2 linked regions of the Homo sapiens genome follow. The protein of the gene in region 2 purifies or fractionates together with the protein of the main gene of each other region. This does not show direct contact. Each region holds a gene or a part of one and is shown on either strand. Other genes may lie near its edges.

The links. The genes of interacting proteins can lie anywhere in the genome.
Region 1: the proteins of POPDC2 (region 2) and SLC12A7 purify together in Homo sapiens (affinity purification with mass spectrometry; 2 studies listed by BioGRID and IntAct, with this or other methods). This does not show direct contact.

Annotation. Positions count from the first base shown.
Region 1 is NC_000005.10:1,073,044-1,077,980, forward strand, and holds part of SLC12A7 (solute carrier family 12 member 7), read right to left. Parts: coding exon 4,790-4,937; intron 3,770-4,789; coding exon 3,651-3,769; intron 3,194-3,650; coding exon 3,095-3,193; intron 2,448-3,094; coding exon 2,328-2,447; intron 1,629-2,327; coding exon 1,524-1,628; intron 759-1,523; coding exon 590-758; intron 1-589. UniProt on the Homo sapiens protein: Mediates electroneutral potassium-chloride cotransport when activated by cell swelling. May mediate K(+) uptake into Deiters' cells in the cochlea and contribute to K(+) recycling in the inner ear.
Region 2 is NC_000003.12:119,653,675-119,658,611, forward strand, and holds part of POPDC2 (popeye domain-containing protein 2), read right to left. Parts: intron 940-4,937; coding exon 831-939; intron 1-830. UniProt on the Homo sapiens protein: Important for the maintenance of cardiac function.

The sequences.
Region 1 (4,937 bases), on a different chromosome or scaffold from region 2:
AGCACACGGGCATCACACTTATGCAGCCCCCAGTGAGCCCCCAGTGAGCCCCCAGCACACGGGCATCACACTTATGCAGCCCCCAGTGAGCCCCCAGCACACGGGCATCACACTTATGCAGCCCCCAGTGAGCCCCCAGTGAGCCCCCAGCACACGGGCATCACACTTATGCAGCCCCCAGTGAGCCCCCAGCACACGGGCATCACACTTATGCAGCCCCCAGTGAGCCCCCAGCACACGGGCATCACACTTATGCAGCCCCCAGTGAGCCTGAACAGCGGGAGACTGAGCTTGCAGCAGAACCATGATTACGGCTCTGGACGGGGCTCACCCATGGCGGGAGGAGGCGGTCCCAGGGTTCGCCCTTGGAAAGCTAATGGCCCTCACACCTCCCAAGCTTCCCGGGGTGCGGCTGGTGCTCCCAGGCCTTAGCGCGCTGCTCTGAGCTCAAAGCCACCGCCACGGCTAAAACACAGCAGCGCCACGCACAGCACCGTGTTGACACGCTGCGATGAGGACATGCCAGGGCACGTTTCCTGTGCAGCTGGGGTGGGAAAGAGGCCTGGCCCCCAGACCCCGCCCGGCCCACCTCCTCGGCCCGCTGAGCCTCCATGTGCTTGTCCAGGTACGTCCCCTCCAGCACCGAGCCCACGATGGTCAGGCCCTTGCCGGCCTTCAGCTGCGACGTGAAGGACAGCAGGCGGGGGTGCTTCACGGCCTGCTCCGCGTCCAGGTTCAGCATCACCAGCACCTGGGGCCTGCAGCCAGGGTGGGGCGGCTGTTACCACGGCAACGCTTACCAGGGCACGGCCCATCAACAGGCAGGGCAGATGGGACGGGCGGGGCACACGACACAGGTGGGACGGGAGATACATGACAGGCGGGACAGGGGACAAAAGGGGCAGGTGACAGATGGGATGGGGAAACGTGACACACGTGGGGTAAGTTGAACAGGTGACAGGTGAGACAGGCCACAGAAGCCAGGTGGGACAGGCAGGGCCGATGGACAGGTGGGCACTAGCCAGGCAGGACAGGAGAACAGGTAGGTTAGACAGGTGGGACAGGTGACATGCTAGACAGGTGAGACAATGGCCCAGGACACACACCTGAAGCCCCCACCGAGGCCCTGAGGGGACAATGGCCCGGGGCACACCCGAGGCCCCCGCCGAGGCCCCTGAGGGGACAATGGCCCGGGGCACACACCTGAGGCCCCCGCCGAGGCCCTGAGGGGCAGAGGCTTCCCAAAGATGGCCTTTGCTTCAGCAGGAGCCACCCTCTCCCACCCCAAGCCCAGGGCTGTGCTGGCAGAGGGGCCGGCTCCCCACACCCCCACCCTGCAGCAGGGACACCCCCGGCCCCCAGCTGCGCCATCCGCTCTGCACCAGGCAGTGTTCACACCCCAGACCTTGCCTGAGCGGCTGAAGGTGAGAGGCCCCTGAGACTCAAAGGTCCCCACTCAAAGGCCGACCTCAGAAACAGCTCTTCTGTGCGTCTGAGGACCACGGGGCATGGGCGGTGCTCACCTCCAGTTCTTGGTGTGGGGGGGACCGTGCTCCACGCGCAGCAGGGCGTAGCGGGCGGCGTTCAGGGATAGGCCACGGATGCCATCGCCCCACTCCTTCTCGGCCCTGTGGGAAAGGAAGTCGGGGTTTGTCCAGCCGCGTACCTGGAGGCTCCTCTCCCACCTGGGAAAGGGGACTTCTGGGGGCAGGTGAGTTGGGGCAAACAGGACCCCCAGGAAAAGTCCCTGGATGAGGAGGGAGGCCTCCATGCCCACCCTTGCCCTGAAGGGAGCCCGTCCTAGGAGCCACCGGGTCAGAGGGTGCTGTGGCTGTGGAGGGAACGAGGTCTACGTCCAGCATGCGTGAGGTGCCTTCCTCACAGGACGGGGGACAGGAGGCCCATGACAGGGAAGTGGCTGGACCCCGGGCACGAGGCGGGTGCAGGTGGAGGGAGGGTGGGTGCTGGGGCACGGGGAAGGACGCCTGTGGCTGCCGAGTGAGTACAGACACAACCTGGGGACACCTCGCGAGACACGTAGCAGGAATAGTCAGCCGTGGGCTCACCGCCTGCTGAGGACGGCACGAGACAGAGCTCCAGGCTGGAGACCCTGTCCACAAGTGCAGGCACCTCGGCCTGGCTGGAAGTGGGAGGGAAACCCCAGCTTTCACAACACAGCCCACCTGGACGTGCTCCCAGCTGCCCCTGTGAGGGCACACGACGCTCAAGCCCCAGGGAGGCCCCTCCAGGGAGCTGCCCCAGGCATAGCATGAGAGGGGCCCGCCCTCCCGTGCGCCGGGTCTGTAAGGGGGGCTGACAGCGCTTACCCGCGGTACTCGATGTACTTGTAGATGCAGCCAGCGATGAGCATGGCGGACAGCGCGTAGTACCAGGAGCAGATGAACATCAGCGCCAGGCACAGGCTCATACCCAGAAAGGACAGGGTCCTGGGGGCGGGGCAAGTGGCTCGGGGCGGCCCAACGCCATGCAGCCCCCACACCTCAGCCACCACCACACGGACACTGCCCCTCCCTCAGTAAAACTCTCTGTTAACACTAGGAAAACAGTCACTGACGCCTGACGACCATGGCTGTACTCAACCACCTCTGAGGGGTGACGTGGCTCCCTGGGCCCCTGTGGGAGCTGTCACTCCAAAACCCAGTACATAGCTCCAGCTCCCAGCGTGCACACAGCACCTCGGCTGTGCATGCAACAAGGGGCTGAAGCGTCCACCCAGCGCCTGATTCCTGGGGAGGGGAGTTAAGAAGACCCACAGCCCTGATGGGCTACGCCCCAAGCCTGGGAAGGCTGGGCTGACCACGGGAGGTACAAGGCACATGCAGACACCTGGGCATCCTCGTAACCAGAGGCCTTCCTCAGGTGCAGTCTCATCAGCTGCGCAGGGGCTTACTCCGCAAAGGAACAGTCAAGGACGCGCTGGGGTCTTCAGGCCCAGAGCAGCTGGCCTTGTAGAGGCACCCAGTGTCCCAGCCTGTGGGGCTCCTGACGCCTGTGCTGAGCGGCCTCACCAGTGGCAGAGGCACCCAGTGTCCCAGCCTGTGGGGCTCCTCACGCCCGTGCTGAGTGGCCTCACCAGTGGTAGAACTTGAAGCGTGGACGCCAGTTGGGGGTACGTAGCAGGGTCTGCACGGCGCAGGCCAGGTTCACGAACAGGTAGCACATGAGGAAGAACCTGCAGGGACGGCCGGCCACTGATACGGGCCCACTGGGCCCCCCTGAGCCCCCAGTCACTGCCACCTGGGAGACCACCCTTGTCACTGTCCCTCCCACCTGCGCCTTGTCTCCCCATGTCTGTCTCTGCACGTGAGCTGACTCAGACTGATTCCGAATCAGGCCCCCTCAGGTTCCAGCCATCCTGTGACCACCTGGTCCATCAAGAGATGGGCCATCGTCCCTTCCCCAGCAGCCGTCTGTCCAGCCACACTGTCCCTGGCTGACCCCAGCGGGCGGCTGCCTGGAGGCCTGTGTACTTGTCTTCCCCGGCGCAACTCCCTTCCCGGCAGGATCCTGACTGCCCACAGCTGGCCATGCCTGTCTACTGCTTGTCCTGAGCAGGACCTCCCATCCACACTGCCCCACGCTCCAGGCCCATACACCCATCCCCAGGTCCCCGTCCTGTGGGGGCTCACATGGAGAGGATCGGGGCCACGCTGTCCAGAGAGGCGATGAGGATGCCAGTCTCGCAGATGAGGACTGTCAGCAGCAGCGCCCACGTGGGCTCCCCGTTGGCCTTCCCGTGGCCAAACACCTGCAGGGAGAAGGGCAGGAAGATGGGGCAGATGACACCACCCTTTTAGGAGAGAAGCTGCAGGCTGGTCAGGTCTAGCCCAGATGAATCTTAAAGACACAGACCAGCAGAAACGCCTTTCACAGTAGGTCCCCGGGACATCACGCGGCTGGCCTGGGAAGAAGCCCTGACAAAGGGCTGCAGCCCAGGAGGCTTCAGAGCTGTGCCTACGCCCGGCTTGCCTGCAACCTGTGTGGCCCCAGCCTGCCCCCCCGCCTCAGTTTCCCCGACCACACAACACAGGACCAGCGTCTCCAGGGCACTCGCGGTTCCCCAGACCCTGTGGTGACCTTTCTCATCAGGCCACCCTCACCTCCCAGAAGCTGAGGCCCACGGGGCCTGTGTGCCTGTCCCCTTCCTGGACACCATGCCCTAGGCCCGGCTGGGACTGAAGATGCAACCACACAAAGGCCCTGCGGGTCGGCACCCTGCCGAGGGACCAGCGACGGGCAAGGATGGCTCTGCCATCCACGACCTTCCCACAGCTGCCCCTGGGCCCAGGTAGCAGGAGGAGCCACAATCGGCAGCTCTGGGCACAGCACACGGACAGGACCCATGCGGGCGTCCGTGCAATCCTCAGAGCAGCCACACACACTGGCTGCAGGTGGCTGGTGACGCCACCTCCCACGGGCTGAAGAGCTCAGCCACACAGAGAAAGATGTGGCAGGCAGGCAGAGGGCTTCTGACCAGACAACAGACCAGGCACCTCTGGACACGTGGCTGTGGGCCCTCACAGCCGCTCCTGACACACCCGGGGCCGAGCTCGGAGGGACCTGCAGGCAGGAGGGCTAGAATTGCCTCTGCCCACCACCCACCTCCCACCACTCCCATGCTCTGTGCAGTGGCCAGGGGCAGAATGACCACCATGGGGTCCAAGCCGCGGGCATGCGTCCCACACACGGCACTGTGAGGATCCCGCAGGGGAGGAGAGCCCCCGACCCTGACCTTCCAGGGTCCCCCCGACGAGGGTGCGGGACTCACCTGCAGGAAGGGGACGATGCCGTCACGGGCAATGGCCTGCAGTAGGCGCGGTGCCCCCGTGAGGCTCTGCAGGCCGGCACCGCAGGTGGAGAAGAAGGAGCCGATGACGATGACCCAGGGGGAGGGCCAGGCCAGCATGCCGATGACC
Region 2 (4,937 bases):
CATCGTGTTAGCCAGGATGGTCTCGATCTCCTGACCTCAGGATCCACCCACCTCAGCCTCCCAAAGTGCTGGGATTACAGGCGTGAGCCACCGCGCCCGGCAAGCAATTCTTTACTGAACAGCTGCTGTGCTCCAGGTACTTTCCTTTAGAGTCTGGGAACAGAGAGGGAAAAGCCTAGATTTGTACTTCAGAGTTCACTGTGCAGAAGACAGAAAGGAGACCAGATTATTAGAACAGACAGCAAGATGTGCACCAGTTAGCATAAGTAAAAGGACTAGAACAGGCACACAGGAGTGCTAGGCTGTGGGGTGGAAGCTGGTGAGGCTGTGGGGTGGAAGCAGGCTTCACAGTGGAAGTGAGGTTCCGTGGTCTCATCTAGAAGGGGAAATGCATTTCAGAGGGGAGAGTAGGGGCCAAGGCATAGAGCTGCAAAACAATGTGGTGTGTTTAGGGAAGTACTAGTGGTTCAGCATGGCTAGTATGAGCAAAAAATATGAAGGAGGGAGAGCTGGAAATGCGACTAGAGAGCACTAAAAGGTTTAAGTTACCCTATAACAAGTGTGGGTTTTTATGTTGTGGCACTAGGGTCTTCCAGAAGAGTTTAAGCATACAAGTAACATGGTCTACCCAGGGGCCAGCATCTTCCTACCCTACCTCACCTATGGCTAGGAGCCCAGGAACTCTTTTCAGAGGAAGAGTGCCCCCGCCTGTAGCTTCACACTGGCAGGGGTGCGAAGGACAGATGTAAGAGGGGAAACATGGAGGCACGGATATTGCTGGGCTACAGTGGGATGGGGTGAGGCGGTGCTGCCACCAGGCTCCCTGTTACCTGGAACACCCCCTCCTCAGAAGGCTGTAGTGATTCCCACTCAGGAGAGTCCATGAACTGGTATGGAAAGATGTAGTGCAGAAACTGCCCATCCTGGCTCACACGAACCCTGGCAAGGGAAGAGAAGAGATCATGTGGGAAAAGGAAAATGGCTCTCCAAGCCACCTATGCTGAAGTTAGGTGTCGCTGATTAACATGAATCTTCCTGTAGAAATACTTTGCCTAAAGCATGGTAAAACCCAAAGCTAGACTAGCCAGCCTAATTACTGCATGCAAGTAGTTCAGAAAAGGAACCCATTGAGACTTCCAGAACCCTCATTTTTCCTCCTCCTTCTCCTTACTGGTGGTTCTCAATTTCAGGCTGCAGAGTAGAAGTCCCAGGGAAGCTTTTAAAAAAAAGCACCTAGGCTTGGGCCTTATCCCAGAGCAATTAAACAAGAATCTCTCTAGGTAGGAACTGGATATTATTAGTATTTACATCTCCCCAGTGATTCTAATGTGTAGCCAAGATAGAAACTACTGCTTAAGAACTCTGCTGCTGGCCCGGCGCAGTGGCTCACACCTGTAATCCCAGCACTTTGGGAGGCTGAGGCAGGTGGATCACCTAAGGTCAGGAGTTCGAGACCAGCCTGGCCAAGAGAGTGAAACCCCCATCTCTACTAAAAATACAAAAATTAGCCAGGTATGGTGGCGGGTGCCTGTAATCCCAGCTACTTGGGAGGCTGAGGCAAGAGAATCACTTGAACTCGGGGGTGGAGGTTGCAGTGAGCCGAGATCACACCACTGCACTCCAGCCTGGGCAAAAGAGCAAGATTCTGTCTCAAAAAAAGAGAAAAGAATGCTGCTGCCTATTTAAGTTTACATTTACATTAATTAAAATTAAATAAAATTAAAAATTCAGTTCCTTACCTAATTACAATATGGGTGTTCAATAGCCACATATGGCCTGTGACTACCATGTTGTACAACATAGATCTAGAACGTTTCTGTCATCACAGAAAGTTCTGTTGGATCCGCTGCTCCACAGATTCTCCTTTCTCCCTTCCCATTAGCTACATGAAGATTCATGCTTACATTTAACCACTTTGTAGACTTTGAAGGAAGTGGCAAGTCTACCATATGCCAGACTCTGCTAGACACTTTACCAGTGTTCTCTTATATAATGTTCACAACACCACAAGGTAGATTATTCTTTTCTGTATTTTATAGCTAAGGAAACTGGTGCTCAGAAGGGTTGAGTGGCGAGCTTAAGGCTACATAGCGATCAAGTGGCGGAACTAAAATTCTATGTTCTTAGCACAACACCATGTTGCCACCCTATTACTACAGCTTTGGGTAGATGGTAGTGGACTCTCCTAGCATGACCCTTTCCCGGACCTCTCTAACCGTAGGTGACAATAACAGCTTGTTTCTTTAGACAATGAGATCCCATGCACCCTATCCAGCTGATGGTCCTAGAGTGAACACCTGACTCAAGCTGAGCCAATCAAACTCCTTCCCTGGGAATTTGGAAATGGAATTGCGTGTAAATCATGCCTTGGATGGGGACAATTATCAGGCATTATTAACAAAACTAACACACTCCTCCCTGAAGGAACTAAAAAAAATTTTTTTTTATCACGTAACTCAGACTTTGAAAAGCATGGGTCCCAATTGGCTATAGAGAAAATAAACTTGAAATCACATAAAATGTCCTAGTAGGACATGTTCTTGTTTCTAGCACTACCTGAGGCTTAGGTGCATGTCTTTCCTTGAGTTTCATAAGAAATCCTTGTATTTTTTTAAATAAAGACCTTTTTTCCCCCTTCTGTTGGCTAGAGTGGGTTACTGTGGCTGCAGCCAGAAATCCGAATTATTTGCTTTAATTTTATGAATATTCTTAAGTCTTAAGTCTTAAGTCATTAACTGCTCTTGACTTGCCCATGACCACAGGCTTGGTTTCACAACTTAAGGGGTTAGGAGCCTTACTATTGCTGCTTGGTGCCTTTGTACCCTTGTGGCTGTACCTAGCCTAGTGCTCTGCCCCTGCAGGGTAAAAAGACTGCATTCCATGAGAACTTGTTAGAACTGATGGCATGTCATTGATGATGCCTGAGGACAGGGAGTGTATTTCAGATGTGAGGCCACATCTGGAAGAAGATTAGAATCCAGTATGGGCTTTATCCTTCCCCCAACCCGACCCCTGCCCAGAAAACTCAGAGTTTCATCTTTAACCTCTCTTCTAAAGTGAGTTATATCAGGCAATAGGGGTGCCTCTATTAGGCAAAGGGGGAAGATGAAAAAGATCTCTAAGGTACACCTTGTTCATTTGGGGGAGATATCCTTCCATTATTTCTGGAGGTTTATTGGCTAAACAAATATTTCTGGAGCATCTCTCATGTTTCTGGAGATCTGGGAATGCAGAGATGGGCACAATCTGGTCTTTGTCTTTGAGGATTTCACAATTTAGTGGAAGTCACAGGCACATAAATAACTGGCTGCAAGTCAATGTGATAGGTGCTATTGTGGAACAGTAACAGAGGAGAGAGAAAGATTGGTTCTCTTTGGGCAGCAGACCTCTCGAAGGAGATGACATTTGAGCTGAATTTTGAGGGATGCAAAGGGTATTGAGAAGCAGATAAAGATGAGAATGAACAAAGACCTGGGAAATCCAGTGTGGCAGTCTGTTCTCCAGTATCTGCTTTCTTCTCTTCCTTAATGGTGCTAGATTTTAACTGGACACATGACTGCAGAGAAAAAAATCAACATTTCTCTACTTCCCTGGCTGCTAGGCATAGGCAAGTGATAAGTCCTGGCCAATGGGATATCAGCACTCCTGAGCCTTGCTCTTAATGAATGCCTAGGTATACATGCGTGTATACAAATTACCAAAGACCAGCACCAATTAAAAAAACAATTGCACCTATTATCTGACAACCTAAAGCTGGAAGACAGGAGCTTTATTCAAGACTCTGAATAAATATGTATGGAAGGGGGAAAAGAAGGAAAGAAGGAAGCAAGAAAGTAAGGATGAATAAATGAACAAAGGAAACCAAGGAACAAACTCACTTGTGTCACCATAAAAGGGGATCAAAACCTCACTGAAAAGCTTCCATAGCAAAGGAAGACAGCAGAAGAGAATGGCGCTGCTGCAGCATATGTCAGCTCCTTAGGCGAGGATTTCGGCCACCCAGGCAAGCCACCAAAGAGTGACAACCGTAGAGTGTAGATAATGTCTAATGATCTTCGTGGCTCGCTGAAGCCATTTAAATCGGAATGCTGTGCCCTTTATCATCTGTTTCTTCTTCCTTCTTGATCTACTGGAAGATGGATGATCTTCTCCTAAATGAATAGCTTAGATAGTTAGTTGCCTGCTCAGGGGGTTGTATATATGGAAGTTTGTGTTTTGAATTTTATATGAGAGAAACGTCTAAGTTAAGCGCTGCTTAACAGGGTGATAGACTTTGAGAAAGTCACTTTCCCTCTCTGAGTTTTGAAAGAGATTGGTTTCCTTTATTAAAACAAAACAAAAAGACTTCTGAGGTTTGAGTGAAGGACTCTAGAGAACAGTGTGCATGTGAGATGTGGAAGTCTGCACAAGAGTCCCCACTTCCTGGCACAAAGTTCTTGTCTGCTGCTTTGAGATGTTTGGTCCCTTACTGTAACCAGCCCAAGGTTCAGTGATTCTCCTTTAAAACTAGAGCCCAGTCATAGACTAGAAGCCTTTTCCTCTATGTCCAGCTCAGCAAAGCTGAGACAGGGTGACACTGAAAGATAACAAAACTCTTACTCCAAACCTTGAAAGGCAGGAAAAAAAAAAATCAAAATTGTCTAATTTCTGACTCAGCCTTTTGATGCTAAGTATACCAGGAAAAGCTACACCAAGGGCAAGCCCCCCTCTCCCCTTCACTGGGAAGTGATCTTATACAAGTTCACAGTAAATCTATCCTAACTGAACTATACAGTAACCATACATGCTTCCAGCAAATGGGCACCCTACACTGGAGGGAGCACTTCTGCTGCTCTCAATTTCCTCCTTTGAACAGACGAGCTATAACATCATGGGTCTCATGAATGAGCAAGTTCCCTAAATTGTCTTTAAGCATGGAACTATAGGTGCAAACATTT